Linked DNA regions of Homo sapiens: regions 2, 3 and 4 are each linked to region 1. Evidence: fine-mapped expression QTL. A gene starts in region 1. Each other region holds a variant in brackets. All regions are shown on one strand. Distances are from middle to middle. Region 1 holds the start of TLR4 (toll like receptor 4). Region 2 has its middle 39 kb from the start of TLR4. Region 3 has its middle 25 kb from the start of TLR4. Region 4 has its middle 32 kb from the start of TLR4.

Region 1 (5,862 bases):
GTTTTCTGTTGTTTGAAACCAATAGAATGTTTGAAGGATTAAATGAGATAAGGTGTTTAAAGAGTTTATTTAAAAGCCCGCTACAGTATAAGTGATCAATAGATGTCAACATTAATTATTATCATCTATCATTAATCCCTTACCATATGCCTGCATAGTTCTTGTTTGTTATATACTTTCACTTAATCTTCAAATAAGCATTTAAAGATGAGGAAAATGGAAATTCAAAGAAATGAAGTAATATGCGCAAAGTCAGAGTTCAAACATGCAGATCTTCATTCGTATGTCTGCTTAAATGTTGCAAGCCATGGAGCCTCAAAGACAATATTGTCTAATAGAAACAGTGCCAGGCACTCTTTCTTTGCCCTCTTTTATTCCCTTTCACGGGAAGCACAACCATCTAACATTATGTTGTCTATCTGATTGTTCTCATCGTATTGTTCATCTCCTGTATTCCATTGCAAGTTTGATGGGTTTGCCCACTGCTTTGTCTCCAGCACTCAGAATGGTGTCTGGCAAATGGTTGGTGCTCAATAAATATTTGCTGAATCACTAACTGATTGAATAACTGATTAAATGAAGGTTTACTTAAGTCCAAATTGTAGGCATTTCCTGCCAAGTGCTGTGGGCATTACAAAGAAAAATATGATGCAGCTCCAGACTTCAATGGACTCACAGTCTAGAGTAAGAGTTTAGATAGGAGCAAAGCTAACACTATCTCAAGGGGCCATAAAATAGGCTTAGAAAATATGCCCTGTGGTTCAGAGAAAGCAGAGATCAAGTCTGGATTCAGGAAAGGCTTCCCAGAAAAGGAAGATTTTAAAGTGGGTCTTGGAAGATGAGTAAGGTTTAGATATGTGGAAAGGGGAAGAAAAACATGTCCTAAGGAGAGGACAACGTGAGCACGTAAAGAGTGGAAAACAAACTCAGATTAGCTGGTGAGTGGTGGGAGTGGTGAAATCTAAGTAAGAGGGCAAGCCAGATCAGGAGGGCCTCAGACTTTGTCCTGCAGCAATTATTTCAATCATTTATCACTTACACATCTAGCGGCTACTGTGTGCTGGCCACTGGAAATATAGTGGTAAATAAAACCAGCAATGATCCTGCCTCCTTACCGATTCCATTACAAAGGGAGAGAGAGAAAATAAACAAACAAAAATATAAAATGTTGTGCTCTAGAAAAAAAAATATTAAGCAGTATAAGGGGATTTGAGGCAAATAAGTGAGGCTGGAGAGCTCTACATGGGGCAATCAAGGAAGACTGCCCTGAGGAGGGGACATTTAATCAGAGATCTGAATGGAGTGATTAAAGCATGAAAAGGACTTGGGCTGCACTGACCAATACGGTAGTCACTAGCCATACACAGTTATCAAACACAAGAAATGTGAATAGTGTAAATTGAGAAGTGTGGTAAATGTAAAACATATACTAAATTCCAGACTTAGTACCAAACAAGGAATGTAAAAATATCAATAATAGGTAAATATATATTAAAATTTTAAACATTATTTTAAATACGCTAAGTTAAATAAAACTATTATCGAAATTAAATTCACTTGTTTCTTTTTTTAATGAGGCTACTAAAAACTTTAAAAGTACATATGTGGCTCACATAATATTGCCAATGGATAGCACTGATCTAGCATTCTAGGTAGAAGAAATAGCCAGTGCAAAGGCCCTGTGGTAGAAAGCTGTTCTAATGGCAATGGAGAGTTATTAAAAGTTTTTAAGGAGAGTAATTTGTTAGATTGAAGCCTAAGGAAAAATAATAACAACAAATGCAAGTACATAACAAACAAGAACGTGCAGAATGAATTAAAGGAAGAAGACTGGAATCAGGAAAGCAGTTAGTGTGTAAGAGTCAATGCCAGGGGAAATGAGGGCCTGCCTTACAGTGGAACTAAGGGGATGGGCAGGGATGGACAGGCTTCAGGGACTGACAGGAAAAGGTACATGGGGAAAAGAAGTCAAGTTTGGCTGTGGTTTTATCTCGCAGTGAGCCTAATTAGAAAATCTATCTCCATTAACCTAACAGCAGAGGGATACAGAGAAGAGGACAAGGAGGAGGACTATGGGCAGGGAATTGAGGGAAGGGATGGCTTCAAGATAATGAATTAGTCTTTGCTAAATATTACTTGATTTTCTCCTATATCCTCAACTTCAGGACTGCAGCTGGCTTTTTCTCTCTTGAGTTTCTGACCCTGCCTCACTGTAAATCATTTTCTTAGCTGTTCGGCTCTACTATGGGTTTCTAAAGCAACTGTGAAGTCTGCGCAGGGGAAAAACAAAAGAGATCCATCATGAATAAGATTACCAACCAGCTGATTGGTATTTCACTAAGAAAGAAACTGTTGCATTAGCTGACATTATACATATTTCCCTCTTGCTTTTTTCTTCTCTCTCTCTCTCTTTTCCTTTTTCATTCTCTTATTTTTTTCATCCTCTGGACTAAACTATATTACTGCATACAGAAGTCTGACACCCACTTAGAAAGTTCTTTCTCTAGAGACACACACACAAAAGCCATCTTTTTCCTGAGATTGAAAGGAGCAGGGTGACTGCTTGAAGCTGAGTGTAAAGACCACCAGTGGGAAGAAATGACACTGAAGCAGTCTGCTTACTCTCTAGTGAAGAAGGTATTATAATTCTCTTACAGATGCGAAAACTAGTCTCAGACAGGTTTGATAATTTCTTCACAGAGCCACAAGGTAGCAGAGCAGGGACCTTAAGCAGATCTATGTTATCTCATGCCCCTGTTAGCACTCAAAATTTCCAAATGGAACAAACCCCCAATGGCTGCCTCTAGTGCCCTGTAACAATGAATTATTTGATCTCTGTGGCTTCTTGAGTCTTTAAGGTAATTTAACTCTTTTTTTTTTTTGCAAAAATAAACAAACCAGGGCACACAGTGAGAAGTTCTGGGCAGAAGTGAGGGAAAGTTCAGAGGAGCTGACTCCAGCCACATACCTCCACGCAGGGCTCCCAGCTTTCTGGTCTCACGCAGGAGAGGAAGGCCATGGCTGGGATCAGAGTCCCAGCCAGGCGCGAGGCAGACATCATCCTGGCATCATCCTCACTGCTTCTGTGAGCAGCAGTGGCCCTGTGAATGCGTGGCTCGCTATCACCGTCTGACCGAGCAGTTTCTGAGGCACTGGTGTCTTCTCTTCCTCGAGCCGCCCCACAGCAATTGGTGTATTCAAAGCAGTTCTGGGCTAAAGGGTGAGAGGAAGTGAAAGCGGCAACCTTAGCATTCTGGACTTTTGTTTCTCTAATAGTTATCTCTTTTGTCACAGGAGAGGAAGTTAGAAGAAGAAAACGCCTGCAGACCAGTGGCTAAAGAAACAGCAAGAGGAAGCTAGTTGGCTTTTATCCCAATTAGTCATCTGACCTCTGCCTGGGCTTGGTGAATTTAGGAAAACAATCAGGTTCTATTAAAATAGCCCTTGTAACTCTCTAGGATGACGGTGATTTTCCAATTTTGTTTCAGCTGTGGAAACACTATTTGTATTAGTTTGCTGGGGCTGCCATAAGGAAATACCACAGACTGGGTGGCTTAAACAACAGACATTCATTTTCTCACAATTCTAGAGGCTTCCAGTCTGAACTCAAGGTGTCAGCAAGTGTGTCTGAATTCTAATCTCCCCTTCTTATAAGGACACCAGTTATGTTGGATTAGGGCCCACCATAATGACCTCATTCTACCTTACATACCTCTTTCAAGGCTCTCTCTCCATATACAGTCATAGTCTGAGGTAGAGGGGTTAGGACTTCGATATGTAGGTTTTTGCAGGACACAATTTGGCCCGCCCCTTCTTGTGAAGAAACTCACATACAAAACTGAAAATAAACCTCAACTGAAACACAGTTTGAAAAGTACAAGAAGATTGGGAAAAGTCTGGGATTTCAGAATGGAATATACTGAAGTTCAGATCTCAGCTGGGTGACTCATGGCTTTGAGGCATTGGTCAAGTCATGTAAACCGCTAAGCTTTACTTTCTTTCTTTTCTTTTTTCATTTTCTGTATTATGGTAAAATCACATAACATAACATGACATAACATAAAATTTATTATCTTGACCATTTGTATGTGTACAATTTAGTGGCATTAATTATGTTCATATTTTTGTACAATCATCACCACTATTCATTAATAAATAACTCCCCATTTCCCCTTTCCCTAGGCCCTTGAATCTATGCACTACTTTTGTCTCTATAATCTTGACTACTCTAGGCAGCTCTTAGAAGTGGAATCATACAGTATGTATCTTTTTGTCACTGGCTTATTTCACTTTGCATAATGTCCTCAAGGTTCTTTTCTGTGTAGTATAGATCAAAGCCTCCTTCCTTTTTAAAGCTGAACAATATTCCATTGTATGTATAGACCACATTTTGCTTATCCATTTGTCTGTTCATGGACACTTGCATTGTTGCCACACGTTAGCTATTGTGAATAATGCTGCCATAAACATGGTTGTACAAATATCTCTTAAAGTCTCTGTTTTCAATTCTTTTGGATACGTACTCAGAAGTGAGATTGCTGGATCATGTGGTAAATCTATTTTTAATTTTTTGAGCACCCACCATATGATTCTCCACAGCATCTGTACCATTTTACATTCCCACAAATGGTGTACAGGAGTTCTCATTTTTTCACATCTTCACCAACACTTATTATTACTTTCTGGTCTGTAAAATGTGGTAATCACTTTTAATCATAGCAGAAGCTTGCATTTATAAAATGTATTAAAATAAAGATACGCAATGGTAGTCAAATTATACAAACCTACCAACCTTTAGTTTTCTGGTCTTTAAAACGAAGATAATCGCATGTGTTTTGAATTACTGAATTAAGCTAACTTACGTAAAACGTCTAGTCTAGAGCATCATCATTACATTCCATAAATGAGAGCTATGATGAGGATTGAAAATGTGGATAGAATGAAGATGATAATATGTATCTCAAAGTATTGTATTGGGATTAAATGAACTGGCATTTGTAAAGCTTTTAGGACAGTGTCTGGAAAGTAGCAAGTGCAATGTAAGTTTCTGTTAAATAAGAACCTGATTTAAAACAGGAATATTATGCATGCTAAGTCCTAGATAGTTCTACTGTAATATCCTCCAAGCACTTCCAATCCAACGTGTCAAAAACCAAGCTGTGAGGGACCATTTTGTGGTGGACTGGGCACAAACTCTTGTAGACTCCATCAACACACCAGTAGAGTTAAGATAAAAACAACCTCCATGTCAAAGCTTTGCTCTGAGTATTGAGATTATTCATGTAAAGATTTTAGAGCAGTGCCTGACACAGAGTAGGTGCTCAATAAAGTTTAGTTCCCTGGAAAGTTAATGGTGTTTCACTTTGACATAGTCATCCAAGGTGGAAATCTCTTTGACTTTATTTCCCTTACTTCCTCATTTCTCATGCTAAACATGTATTAACCCAATTGTCTTCTTTTCTGTGTTCTTGATGTTCTGGCATCTGGGAAGAGACTGCACTTACCAGGGCTAGTTAGTTCTAAAAAATAGCAAAAGATTTGCTCTGGAGCATGCCTTATGCACACTAAGCAATCCAGAGCCCTTCCTCTGAACCACCTCCTCTACCTGGCTTTTACACCCAAGTAGACACCGTTATTCAGCCCTAATCATCACAGGTCCAGGTACCAGACAACTAGAGACAGACCCTCTACCCCAGAGCCCACTGAGGTTATTCAAACTAGCCAGTCCTATCCCTGCTTACCCTGCCTTGCCTTGCCTTTTCTGCAGTAACAACAATAAAAGCTTGTGCCTATAATTTCCTCTTGCTCCCTCTGCCTCCTGACGGACTCTGGTGCTACCAATGTGGCCCTGCATGGTGTGGC
Region 2 (5,862 bases), 39 kb after region 1:
GTACACAGTGTCTATTTAGTGACTAAATAATGAATGCCACTTGCCATCTCTTAAATACCAGACTTAAAGCTTCCTAACTGCCCCACCCACTGCCATACTCTGAGGGCTCACTTACTTCCTGAAATACATATGAAGCCCATCTGCCCACAAAGTACATACAAGGAACACATGGAGTGTCACAGATGTAGAATTCACAAGATCTTTAGGGATAAGGTTAACACAGGGGAGTAATGGACTCGATTTGATATTCTTTTTCTTTTTTTGAGACTGAGTCTCACTCTGTGTCTCCCAGGTTGGAGGGCAGCGGCGCGATTTCGGCTCACTACAACCTCCACCTCCTGGGGTCAAGCGACTCTCCTGCCTGCCTCAGCCTCCCAAGTAGCTGGGACTACAGGCACCTGCCACCACTCCTGGCTAATTTTTGTATTTTTAGTAGAGACGGCGTTTCACCATGTTGGCCAGGCTGGTCTCGAACTCCTGACCTCAGATGATCTGCCTGCCTCGGCCTCCCAAGGTGTTTGTGATTACAAGCGTGAACCACTGCGCCCGGCCTCAATTTGATATTCTTGCTGAAAGTGTACTAACAGGCAGATTCTGAATCTGAGGAGAGCCTGTAAATCCCCTTTTCATTAAAGCTCCCAGGTGATTCTAATATGTAGTTAGGATTTTGAAACAACTGTGCTTTGATTTTTACAAACTATGGTGCCTTATGAGATACTCCATAAGCCCCTGACACATACTCTCTGTTGGTTTGCCCAAGACCATGGGAGCCAGGCATGGTGGCTCATGCCTGTAATCCTAGCACTTTGGGAGGCCCAGGCGGGAGGATCACTTGAGGTCAGGAGCTGGAGACCAGCCTGGCCAATATGGCAAAACCCTGTCTCTACTAAAAATAAAAAAAGTAGCTGGGCATGGTGGTGCACGTGTGTAATCCCAGCTACTGGGGAGGCTGAGGCACAAGAATTGCTTGAACCCAGGAGATGGAGGTTGCAGTGAGCCGAGATGTGCCACTGCACTCCAGCCCAGGAAACAGAGTGAGACTCTGTCTCCAAAAAAAAGGAAAAGAAAAAGAAAGACCCCATGGCGGTTGCTACCATTTTTCAGGGTGGGCAGGGCTACATTCAACAATCACAAGCGCACAGGGATTTGTGCATTTCTGATGCTCCTGGCAGTGACTACACAAAGCATAAATCACTTTTATCCTTGTTTCCACGACTTGTGTTTGATGTCATTGCTACTAACATTGTGCATTGTGCTTCTTGTATTTTCTCCTTTAAGTTTTGGAAAACCTTTTCCAGGAAAGTACCATTCATGTTTTACAAACGAGGAAACGAAATCTCTAAGAGGCTAGATGTTCTTCAGAAGATATCATAGGTGAGCTGGGCTTTGATCCCAGGTCAGTGGAGCCCAAGAGCACACTTTTTCTTTTAGGTTCTCAGAACCCATTGCCTCTCTTGAGTCTGGTCTGTGTCTCTTCATCTTCTTAATATGGCTCTTTGGAGAAGGGATCTTTAGTTTATTTTATCTCATTACTATTGCAGGACGAACAATTTCAGAACAGTTCCTTGGATATGGGTGAAGTCCTTAGTGAGAGGTACACCCTTTCGACTCAATGTATTCATTCAGCATTGAGTATTACATTGGCAACCACTGTGCTAGAGTCTTGCTCTGTCTCCCAGGCTGGAGTGCAGTGGTGTGATCTTGGCTTACTGCAACCTCCACCTACCAGGTTCAAGTGATTCTCCTGCCTCAGCCTCCTGAGTAGCTGGAATTACAGGCATGCCCTACCAAGCCCAGCTAATTTTTGTATTTTTTAGTAGAGACAGGGTTTTATCATGTTACCCAGGATGGTCTCGATCTCCTGACATTGCGATCTGCCCTCTTCGGCCTCCCAAAGTGCTGGGATTACGGGCGTGAGCCACCGCGCCCGGCTGACACTATGGATTCTTAACATGTATCCCTAAAGTGTTTACGGATGGGGAGGTATGCCCTGTGAATTCTTAAAATTGTGTGTAGTAATTATATGTATACACATGCATTTTTTCTGGGGAAAGAGCACAGGCATACATTGGAGACATTGTGGGTTCAGTTCTAGACAATGACAATAAAGCAAATATTGCAATAAAGCAAGTCACAAAAACTTTTTGGATACCCAGTGCATATACAACTTATGTTGACACTATACTATAGTCTATTAACTGTGCAAGAGCATCATGTCTGAAAAACCAATGTACATACCTTAATTTAAAAATACTTTATTGCTAAAAGATGACTACACTGAGATAGGAAGTAAGCACATCATGCTGTTGGAAAAATGGTGCTCATAGGCTCATTCAATGCAGGATTGCCACACACCTTGAATTTGTTTAAAAAAAAAAAGAGCATCATGTCTGAAAAAACAATGTACATACCTTAATTTAAAAATATTTTATTGCTAAAACATGATGACACTGAGATAGGATGTAAGCACATCATGCTGTTGGAAAAATGGTGCTCAGAAGCTTATTCAATGCAGGATTGCCACAAACCTTGAATATGTAAAAAAAAAAAAAAAGCAAAATCTGTGAATCACAATAAAATGAAGTGCAATAAAATGAGGTGTGTCTATACACAGCCTTCACTGGATTTTCAAGGAATTTATGACCTTCAGCACTTAAGCAGCAATAAAGTCTTTGTCTACTCTTAGGGTCTAAGATTCCAAATAATGGGCATCTCCTATCTTGAGAACTCTTAATAGGCAGAACACCATTCTCCACTCCAACATTTGGAAGCATATATCCATAAAGATAATACTATCAGTTAATATTTACTGAACATTTACCATATGTCAAGCACTGTTCTAAGATGCTTAAATGTATTAATGCATTTATTCCTCACAATAATCAAAATGAGAGAATAGATGTGAGGAACAGAGAGGTTAAGTCACTTGCCTGAAGTTGCACAGTAAGTATCAGGGCTAGAATTTCAGCCAGGAAGTCTTTTCCTACAAGCAACACCCAGTGCAATTCACTACCTCTATAGAAACAAAGAAATCAGCCTACACTAATTTCTTGTGTACTTTTGGAGGTTCAGACCAATGTAATGCACTTGCAGTGAACACTCTGGAGATGCACACCTATAGCCCATAGAAACTTGCCCATGATCTGAGTAAGAAGCCCGTATGTACATAGTTTAGATCAAAACAAGGCAAACTAGGGAAAATACTACATTGGCTGTACATGCAAAGAGTAGCAGGGAAAACCATAAAGGAAATATGTTTTATTTGGACAACCTAGAAATACCTTATGGCAGTGGGAATGTCATTCCAGGCCCAGCAGTGTGGATGTTCAAATGATGGTTAATTTTATATGTCCTGTCAACTTGGCTCAGCCATGGTACCCAAATTATTGGTAAAATACTAATCTACATGTTATTATAAAGATAATTTTAGGTGAGATTAACATTTAAATCAGTAGACTTTGAGTAAAGCAGATTACCCTCCATAATGTGGCTGGGCCTCGTCCAATCAGCTGAAGGCCTCAAGAGGAAAAGGCAAATGACCCCTAAGTAAGAGGAAATCCTGCTTCCAGATTTTCCAAGTAGACTTTCCAAACAGAGCTACAATATCAACTTTTCCTTGAGTCTCCCACCTATTATCCTGCCCTTCAGATTTCAAACTCACCAGCCCCACAATGATA[T/C]AATTTCTTAAAATAAATCTTTCTCTGTACACACACACACACACACACACACACACACACACACATTTTATCAGTTCTGTGTCCCTGGAGACCCCTAACTAATATAGTTTATGTTGTATTTTCCAGTGGCAAATATCCTGGTATGGCTGTAATGTAACTGTGTAATGATTATTTAAAACACAAGGCAGAAGACATTGGCTGAGGCCAGGTCATAGAGGACATTAAATACCAGGTGAGAGAACTTGTATTTCATTTTGTATGTAATGGAGAGTCATTGAAGGAGTCTCAGGAGAAGAGTACACAAAGATCTTTGGAAAATCTTATTTAATAATAGCATGCAGGATGAATTTGTGGTGGCCAAGACAGCAGGCATGGTCCCAGTTAGTTGAATACTGAAACCACTCAAGTGAGAGAATTGAAGGATCCCTAGGATGCAAAAACTAATTGGATGGAGTTGGTGATGAAAAGAGATGAGTGAATGATAAAAGTTTCAAAAGGCTGATTTTTGCTGAGTCATTCTAGGAGATTGTTTTCCCAAAATACTTTTACAAAAGACACAGCCTATTTACATTATTGGATGGAAAGGGAGCAGAATAATGATGTTTTTGAGGCTCTGGAAGTGGGTTTGCTCTTTCTTTCCCTTTTGCCTTCCACTATATGACGATGCAGTAAGAAGGTCCTCATCAGATGCCAGCACCTTGACCTTGAACTTCCCAGCCTCCAGAACTATGAGGAATAAATTCTGTTCTTTATAACTTACCCAGGTGGTGGTGTTAGTTATAGCAGCACAAAGTGAACTGAGCCATTTCTATAGCTTAAGCTCTATCACTTCAGTTTCCTTAAACAGGACATGGCTCTTATACATGTACCTACAAAATGTAAAATATTAGACGTGATATTGTATGGTGAGTGCCTGCTATGGTGTCTGTCATATAGCGATTCCCGTCCCACACCCCCTGCCAATTTCAGTTACAAAAAAGAAAAAATCCAAGTGATTGGTATCAAGGTATTCCCCCCACTACTCAGATCTGCTGGCCTGATTGTAGGCAGAATAGGGAAAGATTCATACCAGGCAACGTAGTGTGAAGAAACAGTAGCAACTCCAGGTTTTCTACATAGGAGCCACAATTAGATTAGCAATGGGGTAAAGAGGAATTTGTCTTGAGGTTGTGTTTTTGTATTGAACACATTACATTTACCTAGGCCCTCTTGACTCAAAGGGTGGTCCACACACTAGCAGCATTAGCATCATCACAGAGCTTGTTAGAATCTCAGGTTTCATTCCAACCTATTGAATCAGAATCTCATTTTAATAAAATAACCCGTTGTGCACACATTAAAATCTATGAAGCCCTTGATTAGGCTGTATATGACGGGGTGGCTTAGAAGGGCATTGACAGAGATCATGAGGTAGGGAATACTGCCTTTCCACCCCTAACAAGCCAACCCTCCACATCAACTCTACGTTAGGAGAAATAAAACAAATAGCTATTGATATGATTTGGTTGTGTCCCCACCCAAATCTCATCTTGGATTGTAATCCCCAGAATCCCCAAGTGTCACGGGAGAGACCCTGTGGGAGGCAATTGTATCATGGTGGGTGGGTTCCCCCATGCTGTTTTCATAATAGTGAGTGAGCTCTCACAAGATCTGATGGTTTTATAAGGAGTTTCCCTGCTCTTTCTAGCTCTTCTCTCTCCTGCTGCCATGTGAAGAAGGTCCTCGCTTCCCCTTCCACCATGATTGTAAGCTTCCTGAGGCCTCCCCAGCCATGTAGAACTGTGAGTCAATTATACCTCTTTCCTTTATAAATTACCCTGTCTCGGGTATTTCCTTATTGCAGTGTGAGAATGGACTAATACAGCTATGGAGAAATCCTAGGGTCACCATATTTAAGAGTGCAAGGAAAGGATTAGGAAGATAAAAGAGCAAAACAATTACCCTAAAGGGTTGTTTCCAAACATAAATAAATGAGCCCAAGAATAATTTTTTAAATTATCTTTTTAAGAGAAGCCAAATATATAGCAAATAAATATAATCAAAACTGTTCTGCCTAAGATAGATCATGTGGGACCCAAAGAAGTCCTTCCCCTGCCTCCGCCCAGGCTAACTCAAAGCTACCTCCTCAGAAACCTAGTTTGTAAGTCGCTGCCCTAGAAGCACTTGCTTTTACAGGTAAATCAGG
Region 3 (5,862 bases), 25 kb after region 1:
GGCTTTTGGTCAGAGATTTTTGAGATATTTTCTATTTGCACAGAACTTCTTAATTCTACCACTGGTTAGCAAATTATATCATAGCTTGTGAAGTGCTACAATCAGCCAACTGTACAAAATAAGGTCTTAAATCTTGGTTCTAGTTCAGGCTCTAACACTATTTACTGTGTCAGTGAGGATAATGGGCTTCCACTTCCTCATCCTGAGTTGATTTTTTAATCTCCTTCATCTGTATTCTTCTGATTCTCTTTTGTAATGTCCGTTATCTTGCAGCAGTACTAAATACTTATATCAACTCTTCTCACTTGTGCAATTTGGATTACCACTTTTCCGCTTACTAACCAAGTGGCTTCAGTGATGTTAGTAAGCCTCTCTGTGCCTGACCTTCTTCTGTAGAGTGAACAGTAGTTTCCTCATACAGTATGAGATTAAATGAGATAACAAATCTGGAACTCTGCTTAGAATTGTTCTGGACACATAGCAAAATCAATAAATATAAGCTGCAGTCGTTATAACTCAGAGTAAATTATAAGATCTTTGATAAATGGGACCATGCCTATTATTTCCCACAGTGCATTTCTGCAAATCCCAGAGTAGACAGGACAGTGCTAGGTATGGAAGGATGCACCCAATAAATCGATACTGACTAAATGGATAAATTAGTAGTAGAAATATCTTGGAAACTAAACATCTTTCAAATATTCAATAGGAGAGGTCTTCAGCAAAGCAAAGAAAAAACATCTTCCTAGAATAACAAGTAGTTTAAATAACTGTGTGCATGCATTAACAGTACTTATTCCAGGCAACATCTCAAAAGCAAGACAACACATCTTCACAGAAGCCTATGCTCCTTGTTCCTAAGCAATTAACACTAAAATAAACCATAGACTTCAGAAACTCCAATGGAAAACTGAAGCCTAGAGAATTTTCAGAAAATTCCAATGCATGTGTACACAAGAGCACAAACTAGAGTTACTTAGATCTTTTCATTCTACATGTTATCCAGTTTCAAGGTCATTCCATAAAGCTTTTTCTAAATAACCCATCTACAAGTATCAAAACTCCTCTTCTGAGTACTAGAAGAACATTCTCTATGTTTCTTTTAATTTTTACATGTATACATTTTCTATACACAGTACCTTATCTTGAGGCAGTAGACTTTGAATTCAGAAAGACCTTCATTAGATACCAATTCTGTTACTTACCATCTGAGCATCCTTGAGCAAATTCTCTGATTTATTGAAATCTATACGTAAGAGCTATTGTTGGAAAGATTAAATAAAATAGTACATGTAGACATGCAACAAATATAAGTTTCTTTCTTTTCATCCCTTTTTTTCTCCTAACCATATCTCTGAAAGTTCTTTGATAATAGGCCCTCTTCCACTATAGTACAATATCCTCCTCAGAGAAGAATAAGCATTTATTTCATTTGTTCTTCTATGCTTAGTACACCTCAGGCACCATTTATGAGTAAAATACCATTAAGACACAGAAATTATATTTCTACTCCAACCCAACCAAAAGTGAGAGTATACAGCCTTCTGTTGTGTAGTTACCCTTAGAAGAATAGAGAGTGAACAAGTTATCTCTAGTGTCTAAAGGGTGAAAAAAAGAAAAGAAAAGAAAAACAGACTGAAAAAGTAATGATTACATATTTTTGCTTCTTTCATTTCTGATTTCCCCAAGTATCTAATAAATTAAAATAAAACAAACTCCAAGATGCACATTCTTCTTATTTCTGGAGGAATAAAATCAAGGAGCTTATGGAAGACTTCAAAAAATTGTTGCAGTAGATATAACATGAAATGGAGGGGAATCATAGATTGTAACTGACTTTCTGCCTTCATACGCAACAGGAAGAATGTACGTTCATAGGCAACAAAGTGTTAGTAATCCTTGGTTGAAATATTGTTTTACCTCATGCAATGATAGTTGAGATCTAAAAGAAAAATTTTAAAATGTAAGAATATTAGGTTGGTGCAAAAGTAATTGCAGTTTTGCCATTACTTTTAATATATAATTAAATTTAAAATATAAATTAAAATGTAATGTATATTACATTTAATAATATAAACATACACACAAATGCATACACATAAAACAGAGTTATGGACCTGAAACAATCTATTCTTCTAGGAGAAAACAAGTAATAAAACCAACAGGTAACAAGCATTCAGAGATAATTGCCAGTAATACTCAGACATGTGTTTGATGATTAATAGCAATAGATTTCACAGAGGTGGTTAATAAAGAGGCAGGCAGTGTTGAGACAATATATAAAATGATTAAAAGTGAAATGGTCTTTGGTCCTCAAAGGAAGAAGGAAGGCCTAAAGAGTTTGTCTTTCCCAATACCTGTCACTAAGAAGGTTTTGTGGCATTGAGAAAACCAAGAAGAAGTTAAAGATAAAAACTTGCAAATGGAGAAATTATTCATATGGAAGTCTTGAGCAGTTATTTAACCACTCTTGAAAGTGAAACCAAACAATATCTCAGGCCTTTTTCAGCTTTATGAAAAGACTGATTATCACTAATTTCTTTAAGTGTCTGTTTTTAGATAATGAAAACAGTGGCTGAAAGAAAGAAGATGGAGTCAAAAAAAGTTTAATACTAAAGATCAAGAGAGCCAAATGTTGAATATTTGGCAACAATTGAAAGTACGAATCCCTGAGATTCAAACCTGGAAGTGCTGATTTACGTGCCAGAAAGCATGTGTTAAAAAGTTGTCTATTAGCCACATTTATCTAAATGCAACAGGAAGGATATGACTCCATCTTCCTAAATGGAATGCCTTCCAAAGCTCAGCTCTCTGAGAAATTTCAGAACAAATTTTTTCTTTCAGAAAAATAATCATTCTTGAATGCAAAAAGGACCAGTAGGAAATACATCTGATTATTGTTGAAACTGCTATATGTGGAACCCTCAAAAGTTTTCCTATCCAATACCTTCCTTGATTTCTTTGATTGGTAAGTCTTTGAAATTGCTGCACAAAGTAATCAAAAATGGAGAAGAAACATTTTTTTCCTATGAAGAATGATTCTAAAGAAGTGGATCTTAGTAACCAAGTGGAAGGGAAAATCTCGGCAAAGCCACTGATCTAATCCAATGCTTCCATTCTGCTGACAAGGAAAACAATAACATAAGCTAATTCTTCTCAAAGATAAGCAGTTGAGAGACAAAACCATATAAACTGAACCCTGGACTTAGCATAAAAAGATCTGAGTCATTTGTCCCTGCCAGGTTACCCACTAACAGTGAACTTGAGAAAGTAACATAAACTCTCTCACCTCATTGTCTCAGGTTGGTCATCAAGGGCTGCTAGTGCAAACATTCTCAGATTCTGGGATACTTTTATGATTAGACACATTCATAAAGAACAGACC[G/A]TACTGGCTTTAATCCCAAACTATGACAATAGGGAGTTGGAAAGGTATTCTTTTTCCAAACAAATTCTCCTTTAGTATTCCAAATAGAAAGGGAATATGATGAATAGATCCCTTGCTATCCCAAGAATTCTGTTTTTTCCCCTAGTGCTATCAGTTACTTGATATTTAGTTATTTGCTTTTTTAAAAAAAAAGTATTTTCTTTTCTTGCTATGTGTGGATCACTCAGGAACAAAAATATTTGGCTAAATATTTTTGACATTAACTACTTAATTTGAATATTTTTAAGATTTGCACAACTTTTTTAAGATATTACCTTGCTTGAATAAATTAATTAGAAGATTATCTGTTATGTAGCTGCACATAATGAACCCTTCCCAGATTGGGTCATTCCTAGCCATATTTTTGCCAATATTTTAAGGACCAATTTCTCTCCTAAACTTTGTCCCTTTATGTAGAAAGTATTCCCAACCACAATATATACTTGGCAGTTAAAACTGAATGTGGGTGGAAAAGAAACAAATCTTTCTTGCACATTTCTCATTAAATCCCAAAACCTCTTTGTAGCTTATTTTTAATTCTTTAGAGAAAAATCCTGTTACTAAAAATGTCTGGTACTACCAGAAGATATTACTTTTTGTCTTTTGATCCTGGGACCTGCAACCTGAAGAAAGGTATTGTGCCTTCACTAGGGTATAAGGATTCTGGGTTATCTTACATAACCTGTTGCTGAGTTAATTCAGGAGAAATGAAATATACAAAGAGCAATATGCCCTACAACTTTGACATCATCATCAACACCATCATTATCCATCATTGTAGCAAACACTCATAGCATTATTTAGTTTGAGGCACTGTTTTAATTACTTTACACATTTTAACATAATGAAGTAGAAATGAAAATGTATTCACAGCTTGTGTTATAAAAATTCAACTTGTAAATGTTGTATTAAAAATTTATTCTTCTGACCATCCTAATACAGATCTATTCTTCACAAAGCTGTCCTGGGATATGAGTACCACCCAGTGGTGATGTGTTTATCCATTAAGTTTAATATTTTCTCCTATCAAAATTTTTCTTACCTCCTCCAGTAATGATAGTTACATTGCCTTTCACTAAGTAGGGTTTAGTTATTTAAACTTCAGATGAACTTCCTGAGTGTATTATTGGAACATGGTTTTCCTTCCCCTTTAATATTTGCATTGTTCTCTGAGGATGGATTATAGCTTTTTCACTCTGACAACTTGGGGTTTGGCCATGTGACTTGCTTGGCCAATAAAATGTATGTGAATGAAAATTAAACCATTGCAACCATAAGCTTTGCACTGGCTTGTGTTGTTTAGCTTTGTCTCTTGCACTTCTGCCCTGTACCATAAGAATACACCCTTAGAGGCACTGTTCCTTAAACTCAAGTTCTGGAATAAAAGATAGATGGAGCCAATCAAAATCAACCCATAGCTTGAACTAAAGCTTCCTAATTGACCTGGATAACTGTGAGGGAGAAATAAATATTCATTGTAGACCATTGAGACTTGGGGGGTGGTTTTTTATGCATCATTATTGAAACAATAGCTAGCTAATAAATTCTCATATGTTCATGAGCATGTTAATTATCTCCATTGGCCCCCACCCCTTCCTCTTCCAAATCTTGTTTACCTTTGGTAAATATATGTTCCTCCTTCAATTTTCTTTCCCTAGGTTTTATTTATAAGTCTCCAAAGTCTTTAACGATGGTCAATGAACATAAAGCAGTTCATTTATCAATGAACTGATAAATCTTTATCAAAGAAATATTTATAGTATACTTAATTAAAAATTTTAAAGTAGCTTTAAAATGACTTTGTATTCAATGTTATTTCCATATTTTCTTTCAATGTTAGTCTTGTAACACTAGATTCAGATTGCCTGGGTTTGAATCCTGATTCTGTATTCATCTCTTACTGGGTATGAGGCCTTGGACAAATTTCTTATTAATGCTTCTACTTTCTCACCTACAAAGATGACAAGAGTAGTATCACCAATACAAGGTTCTTTGCAAGATAAAGGTAGTTCATACACGTAAAGGAATTAGAACAGTCCTGGAAAATGGTAAAAACTCCAAAGTTGGCTATTAACTTCATCATCATCATCTATCATATATCAAATCTAGAGAAGGTTGTTTGACCTATAATATGGCTTAATTAGTTGTTTGTGAATGTGCTTGAAATAAACAGTCACCTCTAATTCCTTTTAATTGGAAGATATAATTACTACCTGTAATTCTAGATGATATATTTCTATTTTAAATGTGCTTTAGTAGTCTTCAAATAATATAGTCTTCAGAAGAACTGTCTAAAGGAAAAAAGGAACAAGGAGTAATGCTTAAATTTTAATGTTAAAAAATAACTAAGGATGAAAGAAGTTAAAGGATTTGCCCTAAACTCTCATGAGTAGTTGTATCAGAGCCTGGGTGGAAAAGAACAGACTTACACATAGACT
Region 4 (5,862 bases), 32 kb after region 1:
AAGAAAAAACAAGAAGGAAATACAATCTCATCTCATTGATGCAAGTCTGCCACATATGCTACAATACTTGGAAAAATTTTGCTAGTGTTTCTTTTATTTTACGTATTGCATTTTACTTTATTTTTTCTGGCTGTGTAAAATTTGATATATGTAACAATTATAGGGACAGGTGTTATTATATTTAGAAATATTCATTTTAAATATAAAGAAATTTCAACTTACAAAGATAAGTCACCACACAAGTTTGTAAGCAAGAACAAGCCAGAAAGATCAGTGTCTTAACTGTCCTGTAAGTGCCATGCTCATATCTTCACTGTCTTATAAGTACCATGCTCATGTCTTCCCTGTTTTCGTGTTTCAACTACAGCTTCCCTTCTCCATCCCTGGAGAATTTCCTCTGCCTTTTTTGCCTAAGAAATTATATTAGTCCTTAAACCCACCTCGATGTAGTACATAACATTTACATTTTGGAGTTACAGCTGTGTGATGTTGGACAAGTTGCCTATGCCCTCTGAACATAAGGTTCCCCACCTGTAAAATGGGGGTAATATAATTAACTTAACAGATAATTGTGAAAATTTACTCAGACAATGCATATATATGGTCTAGGACTAGAAACTGATGGAATCAGAATTTAAACCAGGTCTGCATGATTTAATACATCATGTTGCCTCACAAATATTGGAAGCTCCATAAAAGTGGCACTGTCCTAACCAGCCCCAATTGGCCCTGCATGCAAATCTTGGGCCAATTCTAATCCCCTCAGCCTAGATTTTCATTGTGCAAAACAGGTATACTAATTATGTCTAATTCATAGGAATATCATGGAAATTAAATGAAATGATGTGTGTGTCTGGCATATACAGAGAACTTCAATACATGATAGATTGTTATTTTTCATAATACCAATGATAAAATGACAATGGTGATTAAATTTACGCTTTCTTTTTGTTATTCGTGTCTTTTTTCATTCTCTGTACTGTTCATTGCTAGGCTGGAAAATACCTTGTGCCCATTATCTTTCCTCTTGAGGAATGTCAGCAAAACTTTTTTGAAGAAAGCAAAAAAGTTTCAAATGCAGGCATTTTAATTAAAAAGAAAAAAATAAAGAAGAAAAAAGACAGGGCAGAGAGGTTGGATTGAGCTGTTTCTTTATATTGAGAGTTTTCCTGAGGGCGGGCTGCTCATCATCTGTCTTCCTGCTGTTTTGCACCTTTGCTTATACAATACATCCACTCCTAGAGGCATCTTAGCAGAAAAAAGATGAAAGGGAAGCACTGGTGCTCCTTCTGGACACAAGAAACAGAACAGATGAGACAAGAAATGAAGAAGACGTGAGGATGGTGAAATAGGCTGGGCCAGGAGAGGAGGAAAAATATGGAAACATGGAAGAAGAGAAAGAAAAAAAAGGAGGACAAAGAAGAGAAAGAGGAAGTGAAGGAGAGAAAAAGAAAGGAAAAAAATGAGGAAGAGAGAAGAATGATGAAGGAATTAAATCACAGGAAAGACAAACATGAAGGGAAATGAGAATGATAAAAAGAAATGTGGAAAAAGGGAAACAAAGGTGAATATGATGAAATCATAAGAAAAAAAGTAAAAAGAATGAAATAAATGAGTGAAGAAAAACAACAGTGATAAGAACTAAAACAGTCGTTAATGTGAAATAAAAGGAGAAAAGGAGAAAAGCAAGAAAGGGGAAACAAACTTGAAGAAGAAGGAGGAGAAGGAGGAGGAGGAGGAGGAAGCAGCAGAGGAGAAAAGAAGAAAAAGTGATGAAGCAGATGCTGGAAATTAAGATACTACTTCTACTGTCTTAAGCAGCTCGAGCTCACATTAAAAAAATCATAAATTGGGTGTCTTAAATAACAGAAATTTATTTTTTCACAGTTTTTTCCAAGGCCAAGGTGCCAATATAATTGATTTCCGGGGAGGGCATTGTGCTTGCATTCTGGGCAACGACCTTCTCACTGTGTCCTCACATAGAGGGGAGAGAGAGAGAATCAGAGAGCAAGCTCTGGGGTGACTTTTCTTAAACAAGAGCAGTCATCCCATTGTGAAGGCCCCACCCTCATGACCTTGTCAAAACCTAATCATCTCCCAAAGGCCTTGCCTCCAAATACCATCACATAAGGGTTAGGGTTTGAACATATAAATCTGGGGGGTGGACACAATTCAAGTCACAGAACTGCTATTAATGATCATAAACACACTATCAATGGAAAGTGGGAAGAACGGAGTTAATGTAGCTTATACACTTTGTGCTTCAAATGAATGATTTTGTTATAGTCACTCTAACAATGCTCTAAGATATCCACGGTGATTTTACAAATAAAGAAAGATGTCCATATTTTCTTTCCTCCTTCTAATAGCAAATCAAAAGTTATTTTGTCCTGAATGTCTATTGATGCCAATGTATACCAGACCTTTTTTTTTTGTATCGCAATTTTTAATATATTAGGGCTTTTTATTTCTTAGTGGTCATGAGTCATTTCAGGGCATTCTTTGAATACCTTATCTTCCTAGGTCACAGTAGATATTTCTAGGCAAAAATGTGGAGGAGGAAAGAGAAGATGGGGCTTGGCTCAAGGACATAACACATCCTTGTTTGACCTGAATCATCTTGGTCAATGTTTTGACCTGAATCATTTAATAAACACAAAAGGGAGATTATGTAAGAGGAGGTCTTTGAAAGAGGCCTGAAGTAAATCTGGGTGATTCAAGAATAAACCACAGGAAGGATGGAGCCTAAAATCATGGATTGCATAAGTTTATAAACCTTACCTTCTCTACCTAATCAAAATTGTCCTTGTAAAGGAGCCATCTCTTTCCCTAGTTCCAAGTAATAATTGCTAAATCTCTCTGAAAAAAAATGGAGTAAGTTGAGATCTGCAAAATTTTATTTTTAAGAAAAATGTAAGAAACATCAACTTCATGAAAATTAAAAATTTGTTTACATTAATTTAATTTCAACTAATGGCACTGCAAATATTTGGTTAATTTTTATGTAAAGAAAAGCAATCATGAAATTTTATTCATGAAAACCACAGTAACAAATGATGAAGTTGAATATATCTCAAACAAGTCAAATTGTGTGTTATCACCCAGTGCTGGGTCTAGAGTGTCCTTTTCTTAGGAAAAAAAAAAAAACCTACAAAATAGAAAAAGTATTATTTCAAAAAGGGCAGAAAATAAAAACAAAGAAAACTTTCTTCTAGAAATTAATCCTATGATGACTCATAGCCAAGTTCCAAAGATATCTATGCAATAATATCATCATAAATTCTTTAGAAAATTAAAACATGCATTCACACACATGCACACACAC[C/T]TACATATACACACATGAACATCTGAAAACAATTTAGATATCCATCCTATGGCACATATTAATTAAAGCACAATCTTTGCTCATACAGGGAGAAAGTGAGTGTTCATCAAAAGGACACTAGGATTCTACATTTATGGACATAGAGAGATAATATCTTGTCAAGTGAAAAAAGCAGACCACAGGAAGCATGGACAGTATGATCTCATTTATACAAAATGTTCTCTGTGTGTGTGTGTGCATGTGTGTGTATGTGTGTGTGTATGCATGTATGTGTTTAGGTGCAGTGAAAGAAATGGAGGAGTACAAGAGTACCCATAAGAAATAATAGATTTCAGAGGATTTTCAACATAGTATTAGCAATTGACATTTACGTGATTGACAGAATTTCTTCTCTGTACTTTTCTAAACTGTTTGAATTATTTTTCTAAAACTTAAAAAAATTAAATACATCATAATACAAAGTATATATATAATCTATAAGTATAATTTTGAAATAATAAAGAGAAATTGTCATAGGTACATGCGAACCCATCACATAGTTTAAGATATATTGTTTAAATTATTTACAGTGGGTTAATATGATTTTATAATCAGAAAACGTGCATACACTTTTGGAATAAATGAGAATGAAAGGTCATATGAAACATCCATGCTCCTCATGGCTAATGCATCCCATCCTCTCCCACATTTGGTTTTGTCTTGTTTACCTACATGAAGCTATTAGTGTATATTACACCGCCTCATTTTCATTAAAGCCAGATCTTAGGAGGCCGAAGCGGGTGGATCACCTGATGTTAGAAGTTTGAGAACAGCCTGGCCAACATGGTGAAACCCCACCTCTACTAAAAATCCAAAAATTAGCTGGGCGTGTTGGGTCACGCTTGTAGTCCCAGCTACTCGGGAGGCTGAGGCATGAGAATAACTTGAACTTGGGAGGAGGAGGTTGCTGTAAGCCAAGATCATGCCACTGCACTCCAGCCTGGGCAACAGAATGAGACTCAGTCTCACACACAAAAAAATCCAGACCAAGCCTTAATTACTGTTTTCTTTCCACAAATCCCATAAACCTACCCCTAGCAGCCAGTACAGTGCCTAGTACATGGTAGATATTTGGCAAATACGAGTTGATACAAAAGATAAAAATTATAGACAGATTGATAAAATGTTTGTATAAAAAAGTTATCTCTTTAATTCACAAAGCCTTCCCTGTTTTCACGCCTAAATCAGTAGTGACCATAGACATTCTATTTCCTGCCTCGTAAGCTGCTGCACACTTATGAAAACCCTCTCTGTATAATCTAGCAATAATTTCTTATCAATATTTACTAAGCATCTGCTATGTGCCAAGCACTGTATTAAATTTTGGATATAATTTGGGGGATTTTGTGCAAAGGGCCTCATGACTGCCCCTAAGAGAATAATTAAAAGACAATATACTGGAAAATGAGGTGGAAAAATCAGGCTTCAAAGAGAAAATTCATTCTATAAATAAAAGCCCCATTGTATTACATGCATTTGAAATCTAAACCACCCTATTCTTTCTTAAACTTTATTTCAAGTGCTATAATTAATTCCCCAAATATTTTTCTCTTAATAAGGGTAAGTAAGTTTTCTCTTGGGTCTTTGCTACCATTTCCAAGTCCTCTTTTGACATGAAGATCCTTTCTTCATGGATCATTAGGGTCTGTATGAAGAATATTCTTTTTTTTTTTTTTTACAGTTTGAATAGACAAAAAAGGAAAATGCCCTATATTGTTCATTATCTACGCTTCAATCCCTGTGATAGATGCTCCACATACATGATCTCCTTTAATTCTCAAAATTACACTAGGAGCTCTGCATAATTATGATGTAACTAACACCCTACTCACCATCCTCCCCTTCCAAAGGTCGAAGTTGCTCTAGAAAGCAAAGTGGATAAAAGTAGCACTAACATTTCTCTCCCTGTCATTCTTACTTTACTCCTCTAAAATACAGTGGGTATTTTTTTAAGGCCATTAGAACCAATTTAAAAGAATTACTTTAGGACCCTCTTTAATGGGTATTGTAACTGGCTCTCATTTAGCACGTTTGCAGTAGGTAAATAAAGGTATAAATTGGGTGAAAACAGTTCTGGGAGGCGATGCCATTTTAATTCACTTCAGGTGTTCTTTATTTTACTTTGATGGTTTAAAGGTCAACTTTTCCATATTCCCAAATAAATTATTTTGCATTCCTATTTTTGTGACATGTAAATAGATATGCTCTCTAGAGACAGCATCGTAAGGGGTACTATATGCCTAAGACTTAAGGATGGATTCAATCCTGGTCTTGCCAGCGATGAGGCTCATGGTTTGGGATGCTGGTGTCCTCTGTTCTCATCAAGCCTGGCTATTTGTATCACTCTATTCTTTTCATCTGCAGTTTTTCAAACATTTTTGCACACAGCTACTGAGCACACCTTTATCTAAACCATCTTTTGCCATTATATTTCTTGGAGCAATTTCTTCTTTTTTTTTTTCTTCCTTATGTCATAAAATTGCTTCTGCTCTCAAACT

The links. PIP is the estimated chance that this variant, and not a neighbour inherited with it, causes the effect. A credible set is the group of variants that fine-mapping cannot tell apart.
Region 2: its variant is the best candidate, but not a certain one, in a credible set for the expression of TLR4 in tibial artery (GTEx, PIP 0.59).
Region 3: its variant is the best candidate, but not a certain one, in a credible set for the expression of TLR4 in tibial nerve (GTEx, PIP 0.88).
Region 4: its variant is the best candidate, but not a certain one, in a credible set for the expression of TLR4 in whole blood (TOPMed, PIP 0.53).

What each region holds. Positions count from the first base shown.
Region 1 is chr9:117,701,672-117,707,533 of GRCh38, reverse strand. It overlaps TLR4 (toll like receptor 4), which reads right to left and starts at 3,131. Exons shown (of 3, transcript NM_138554.5): 1 at 2,969-3,131. The coding sequence starts at 3,061. RefSeq lists enhancers at 1,246-2,445, 2,561-3,061, 3,032-3,101, 3,112-3,161, 3,062-3,562 and 1 more.
Region 2 is chr9:117,662,937-117,668,798 of GRCh38, reverse strand. No RefSeq gene overlaps it. Among named protein-coding and RNA genes, the nearest start is that of TLR4, 39 kb to the left of the region's middle. The variant T/C (reference allele first, on the strand shown) is at 3,678.
Region 3 is chr9:117,676,509-117,682,370 of GRCh38, reverse strand. No RefSeq gene overlaps it. Among named protein-coding and RNA genes, the nearest start is that of TLR4, 25 kb to the left of the region's middle. The variant G/A (reference allele first, on the strand shown) is at 3,386.
Region 4 is chr9:117,669,329-117,675,190 of GRCh38, reverse strand. No RefSeq gene overlaps it. Among named protein-coding and RNA genes, the nearest start is that of TLR4, 32 kb to the left of the region's middle. The variant C/T (reference allele first, on the strand shown) is at 3,326.